2 linked regions of the Homo sapiens genome follow. The protein of the gene in region 1 purifies or fractionates together with the protein of each later gene. This does not show direct contact. Each region holds a gene or a part of one and is shown in the gene's direction. Other genes may lie near its edges.

The links. Proteins that work in one complex are often made in the same cells at the same time.
Region 2: the proteins of ZBTB7A (region 1) and SMC3 purify together in Homo sapiens (affinity purification with mass spectrometry, with the first as the bait; one large-scale study listed by BioGRID). This does not show direct contact.

The regions. Positions count from the first base shown.
Region 1 is NC_000019.10:4,053,400-4,056,899, reverse strand, and holds part of ZBTB7A (zinc finger and BTB domain-containing protein 7A), read left to right. Parts: intron 1-1,378; exon of another isoform or gene 1,379-1,391; coding exon of another isoform or gene 1,392-1,526; intron 1,527-1,652; coding exon of another isoform or gene 1,653-1,667; coding exon 1,668-2,929; intron 2,930-3,500. UniProt on the Homo sapiens protein: Transcription factor that represses the transcription of a wide range of genes involved in cell proliferation and differentiation.
Region 2 is NC_000010.11:110,574,195-110,577,694, forward strand, and holds part of SMC3 (structural maintenance of chromosomes protein 3), read left to right. Parts: intron 1-1,141; coding exon 1,142-1,209; intron 1,210-2,165; exon of another isoform or gene 2,166-2,267; intron 2,268-3,226; coding exon 3,227-3,298; intron 3,299-3,500. UniProt on the Homo sapiens protein: Central component of cohesin, a complex required for chromosome cohesion during the cell cycle. The cohesin complex may form a large proteinaceous ring within which sister chromatids can be trapped.

The DNA.
Region 1 (3,500 bases):
ACGCGCCACCACGCCTGGCTGATTTTTTTTTTTAAGACGGAGTCTCGCTCTGTGGCCCAGGCAGGAGTGCAGTGGTGCAATCTCGGCTCACTGCAACCTCCACCCCCCAGGTTCAAGCGATTCTCCCGCCTCAGCCTCCCGAGTAGCTGGGATTACAGGCACGTGCCATCACGCCCATCTATTTTTGTATTTTTAGTAGAGACAGAGTTTCACTGTGTCAGCCAGGATGGTCTCGATCTCCTGACCTGGTGATCTGCCCGCCTCGGCCTCCCAAAGTGCTGGGATTACAGGTGTGAGCCACCACACCCAGCCTAATTTTTGTATTTTTAGTAGAGACAGGGTTTCACCATGTTGGCCAGGCTGGTCGCTGGTCTTGAACTCCTGACCTCAAGTGATCTGCCCACCTCAGCCTCCCCAAAATGCTAGAATTACAGGCGTGAGCACCGAGCCGGGCCTCAAAGTGCCCTTTCAACAGGCATTCCCGGGGGCCCTCCTCGGAGGGGTGGTGCCAGTGTGCTTGTGAAATTTAAGCGTCCAGTGTGGGTTTTGCCAGCCTCATCTCACGCTGATGAGACAGAACAGGGCATCTGACTGCTCTTGGGCACAGCTAGGGAAACTGAGGCTGATGGGGGGCAGGAAACCTGACTGTCCTCATGCACAGCTGGGGAAATTGAGGCTGGGGGCAGGACAGCTGGCCGCCCTTGTGTACAGATGGGAAACAGGTTGGGAGTGGGACACCTGATTGCCTTCCTGTACAGCTGGGGAAACTGAGGCTGGGGACATGACGTCTGATTGCTTTTGTGTACAGCTGGGGAAACAGGCTGGGGGAGGCAGGACATCTGACCATTCTCATGCACAGCTGGGGAAACTGAGGCTAGAGGATAGGACATTTGACTGCACTTGGGAACAGCTGGGGAAACTGAGGCTGGGGAGCCGGGACATCTGGCTATCCTCATGCACAGATGGAAAACAGTCTTGGCCGGGTGCCGTGGTTCATGCCTGTAATCTTAGCACCTTGGGAGGCAGGGGCGGTTGGATCATTTGAGGCCAGGGTTTTTTGATTTGTTTTGTTTTTTTGAGATGGAGTCTTGCTCTGTTGCCCAGGCTGGAGTGCAGTGGCGTGATCTCAGCTCACTGCAAGCTCTGCCTCCTGGGTTCATGCCATTCTCCTGCCTCAGCCTCCCGAGTAGCTGGAACTACAGGCCCCCGCCAACACGCCCGGCTAATTTTTTGTATTTTTTAGTAGAGACGGGGTTTCACTGTGTTAGCCAGGATGGTCTCCATCCCCTGACCTCATGATCTGCCTGTCTCGGCCTCCCAAAGTGCTGGGATTACAGGCGTGAGCCACCGCGCCAGGCCGAGGCCAGGGGTTTGAGACCAGCCTGGCCAACATGGTGATAGCCTGTCTCTGTATTAAAGACACACAAAAAAGAAAAGAGGCTGGAGGCAGGGCATGTATCGCTTTGGTGCACAGCTGGGGAAGCTGGGGCTGGAAAGGCGCGACATCTGACCGCCTTCACGTGCAGGTGGGAATGTGAGGCTGGGGGAGCAGGGTGGAACGCTGCTTCTCAAGGGCCTCGGGCCCTTGTCAGTGGGCACAGGAACCCCCGCACCCCCACTCACGAGCGCCCTCTCCTTCCCCACTGCTGCAGGTCTCGGCGCGGAAGATGGCCGGCGGCGTGGACGGCCCCATCGGGATCCCGTTCCCCGACCACAGCAGCGACATCCTGAGTGGGCTGAACGAGCAGCGGACGCAGGGCCTGCTGTGCGACGTGGTGATCCTGGTGGAGGGCCGCGAGTTCCCCACGCACCGCTCGGTGCTGGCCGCCTGCAGCCAGTACTTCAAGAAGCTGTTCACGTCGGGCGCCGTGGTGGACCAGCAGAACGTGTACGAGATCGACTTCGTCAGCGCCGAGGCGCTCACCGCGCTCATGGACTTCGCCTACACGGCCACGCTCACCGTCAGCACAGCCAACGTGGGTGACATCCTCAGCGCCGCCCGCCTGCTGGAGATCCCCGCCGTGAGCCACGTGTGCGCCGACCTCCTGGACCGGCAGATCCTGGCGGCCGACGCGGGCGCCGACGCCGGGCAGCTGGACCTTGTAGATCAAATTGATCAGCGCAACCTCCTCCGCGCCAAGGAGTACCTCGAGTTCTTCCAGAGCAACCCCATGAACAGCCTGCCCCCCGCGGCCGCCGCCGCCGCTGCCAGCTTCCCGTGGTCCGCCTTTGGGGCGTCCGATGATGACCTGGATGCCACCAAGGAGGCCGTGGCCGCCGCTGTGGCCGCCGTGGCCGCGGGCGACTGCAACGGCTTAGACTTCTATGGGCCGGGCCCCCCGGCCGAGCGGCCCCCGACGGGGGACGGGGACGAGGGCGACAGCAACCCGGGTCTGTGGCCAGAGCGGGATGAGGACGCCCCCACCGGGGGTCTCTTTCCGCCGCCGGTGGCCCCGCCGGCCGCCACGCAGAACGGCCACTACGGCCGCGGCGGAGAGGAGGAGGCCGCCTCGCTGTCGGAGGCGGCCCCCGAGCCGGGCGACTCTCCGGGCTTCCTGTCGGGAGCGGCCGAGGGCGAGGACGGGGACGGGCCCGACGTGGACGGGCTGGCGGCCAGCACGCTGCTGCAGCAGATGATGTCATCGGTGGGCCGGGCGGGGGCCGCGGCGGGGGACAGCGACGAGGAGTCGCGGGCCGACGACAAGGGCGTCATGGACTACTACCTGAAGTACTTCAGCGGCGCCCACGACGGCGACGTCTACCCGGCCTGGTCGCAGAAGGTGGAGAAGAAGATCCGAGCCAAGGCCTTCCAGAAGTGCCCCATCTGCGAGAAGGTCATCCAGGGCGCCGGCAAGCTGCCGCGACACATCCGCACCCACACGGGCGAGAAGCCCTACGAGTGCAACATCTGCAAGGTCCGCTTCACCAGGTGAGCTGCCCGCCGCGGGGGAGGCGCCGTCCTGCTCTCTGCCCCAGCATCCGCCGCTCACGACCCCTCCCGCCTCTCTCCCTGCACCGCACGCACACATGCACGCAGACGCACACATACACGCACGTGCACACAGACACGTACACGCACAGACACATGCACGTCACCTACACATCCACACACACGCAGACACACATACACGCACTTGCACATATATACGCACATGCACACACATGCACAGACGCGTATGCCACGTACACATGCACACACACAGACGCACACACGCACACGCACACCACATACACATACAGACATGCTACACAGACACATGCAGACACAGATGCACACCACATACACATCACATACACATGCACGCACACACACGCACACCGACATGCGCGCACACACACGCACACCACATACACATCACATACACATGCACGCACGCACGCACGCACACACGCACACCCAGGCACGCACACAGATGCACACGCACCCCCAGACATGCATGCAGGCACATGCACACAGACACGTACATGCGCACACATACATGCACATGCATGCAAACATG
Region 2 (3,500 bases), on another chromosome or scaffold:
AACGTTTTCTAAACCAATCATCTTTGTAAAGGATGAAGAGGTATAAAAAACTTGAAACTGAACAGACTGTTGTCACTTTGAAGATAGTAAATAGAGCTTCAAAAATTCTCTCTAAATTGCATTTAAGTGTAAATAGCAATGCGTCTGTTAACAAATCCTTTGAGGAGAAAAACATTTTAACAAAATTAGACAGTTAAGGAGTAGGTTGAAAAATTTGAACTTTTTAGTTGGGTAATGCTTGAGGGAAAGGGGCATTTAGTGGACTGGCTTAGTAAGAACAAAGGTTCTATCTCTTCTGTGCACACGAATCTGAAAGGCACTCTCTAGCCTGTATATCCTATTGTGGTTGTAATTTGGCAATGATGAGAGAATGGACTGAAGTGGAAGTATTTCAGAATCTCCAGGGCAGTGTGAAGTCTCCTCACCTCGACCTGTGTCCACAGCACACACATTAATGCTTATGCACGTACTTGCTGATGTGGGCACCCCCACCACCTCCACACACACACAGTGCCAGAGGTCTCTTGGGTGGACTGGGACAAGAACAGCTGAGTAAAGAGTTCCACTTCCTAGGCAGGGTGGTCCAGTTAGGTACTCTATACCGAAGTAGGAACGGCCCCTTCTTACAGAGCTCGGTATAGTATAAGAAGTGTAGTATAAGTTGGGCATCTCAAACATTTCCCTGTATTTCCTTAGTTTTATTTCTTTTGGTAAAGTATCCACTTAAGCATATTCTCAAAATACATCCTATTTTGTTAAAAAGGATTTTAACTCATATCATTTATGTCTAGTGGGGAAAAAAGCAAATACAGTGTTAACCTAATCCAGTCAGTGAACACTTTGAGCCAGAGGTATACCTTAGTTTTGCTTGTCTGTTTTCATGTATTTCGGTGGTTTCTCTTTATTTCCTTACCTTAAATGTTTCAATGAAAACTTCTCAGTATTTTTCTTATATCATTTCCTACCTGATTAGTCTGATGTGCAGGCACATTTTCTGCATTTCCTTTTGTCCATATGAAACAGATAATTTATTTGCATTGTCTATTACCAGACACACTATGTTCTATTGAGGTGTGGGAAGTTATAAATAAGTTATAAACACTTTTTTAGGGTATACTAATAGTTGTTTTTGTATTTCCAGCAATTCAGTTTGTTCTCAGTGATGAGTTTAGTCATCTTCGTCCAGAACAGCGGTTGGCTTTATTGCATGTGAGTGAGACTGCTTTAAGACATTATTGATATTACATATATTTTAAAAATAAATTTTCCATGCTGGTTAAAAAAGCATTTGTTCAAGTTTCAGATTCTTTGTGAACAAGACACAATCTTTCTCATAAGTGTGTTACTCTGCTGTGAAATTTAGCCTAACATATTAATGCCAGATAAAAGCCCAATTTTTATACAGTGGTTTAGGAGAAAATTATAGGATTTGCCTATAGATGGATATGTCCTCCATATAAATGTCTTAAAGGAGACATGATATATATCATAAGTGTTTTATTCTGCTGTGAAATTTAGCCTAACATGTTAATGCCAGATAAAGGCCTAATTTTTATGTGATGGTTAGGAGAAAATTATAGGATTTGCCTATAGGTGGGTATGTCCTCCATGTACATTTCTTTAAGGATGTGATCTGCAAAGGCTTAAGAAGCAGGTTTGCTGAGGAGAAAGAAGAGTTTGAGGTTGCAGATTAGGAACTTTAAGATGCAGAACCAAAAATTAATTGGGAACATAGAGAAACAACCATTGCAAACTAAACAACATACAAGTTGTTTGTTGTTTTAGCCATATTTGTACTTAGATAGTAAACATCATTTTCCAGTATGAAAAACAGTAGAGATGTTCTGCAACTTACAGCGGGGTTATGTCCTAATAAACCTATCATAAACTGAAAATACCATAAGTCAAAAATGGACATTAGCCTACAGTTGAGCAAAATGATCTAACACAAAAGTCTGTTTTATAATAAAGTGTTGAATCTGTCATATAATTTATTGAATACTATGCTGAAAGTAAAAAACAGTGATTTTATGGATACTCAAATTATGGTTTCTACTGAATGTAGACTGCTATCACGTTGTCATTCAGCCATTTGTTGAACCATCGTAAGTTGGGGACCACCTGTATATTTACAGTAATGTGAGTTAGGATATTTTATTAAGTGGGTCCTTTTGTAATGCATAAGCACGATGATTGGGTTTTCGTGTTCATGTGAGTCATGCCTCCCTCAAACCTTGTTAGGACATTGGCACATTACCAATGTGATGTGGAAAAAAATATGAGTAATGGACTAAAGTAATTTTAGGATAGAAAATCATGAAAGACTACAATAAAACGATTAATCCTTCTGATTTGAATATTGTTTATTAAAGACTAGAAAATGAAATTCCTCAACATGTCTTAACAGTGTTTCTCACACATAGGAAATTGTTTTGTTTAGCTCTTGTCTGTCTTTTCCCCTTGTTTAGTTTGAATTTGTAGCCCAGTAATCAGAATTGATTTCCTTTAGAAAAATTCTTTTTAGGTTTTTCAGATTGGCATTAAAATAATTAATAACCTCTTTGGTACAGTTCTTCATTGTATTTACTACATAGTTTCTATAATCTGGAAGGTATCTGGACTTGGTACCATAGTTTTTGTGTCATAGATTGGTTTAAATGTGACACATGTTAAATGTGTATATTTCTATAATAGATTTAAAACTGTAGAATGTCTCAATTTTTCTTAAAAAACAGACTTTTGGTAATTATCCCATGATTTATTAGGATTTCTTTGCAGCATTAAAATGAGACTGTAAGAGAAAAGCCTCATGGTGTATTAGATATTAGCAAATAGGTAGAGTTAAATGTCCCCAGTCTTGCAGTCTAATAAAGTGGTCTGTAGAATCATATTTAAGGATATCTAACTTTGACATGTCTTGCATAGCTCTTATTTTTTATTTAGAATCAAAAGCTATTTGGTTGAGAAGTTTTGTTGTCCTAATCTAACGTCTCTGCTGTTTTGGCAAGAGGGATATATACTATAACTCTGGGGATATCCCCAAAGTATGTATCCCTCTTGCCAAAAGAGCAGAGACGTTAGATTAGTGTGTGTGTGTATATATGAATCTAGCAGAAATTTTTCTCCATTGAATCAGACTTGTTATTATGCCCTAGACTTTAAGAATCCTTTAAAGGATATGAATATACAACTTAAATGGCAAATTTCTCACTTCTTTCATTTTTAGGAAGGTACTGGTCCTCGTGTTATTTCTGCTTTTGTGGAGATTATTTTTGATAATTCAGACAACCGGTTACCAGTAAGTAACTTTTTTTTTAAAGTAATGTTGAGAATTTAATTGGTTTAGCTGATTTTCTTCATACTTTGAAACTTTTTAAGCTTTTATAATTTGTTATAATTACAGTTTATATACTGATTTTATCTTAAAATGACAATGAATACTCTGTTAACAAATGGGAATGTACAAACTGTTGTGAAAAGTGTCTTGGTTAAGAGTATTG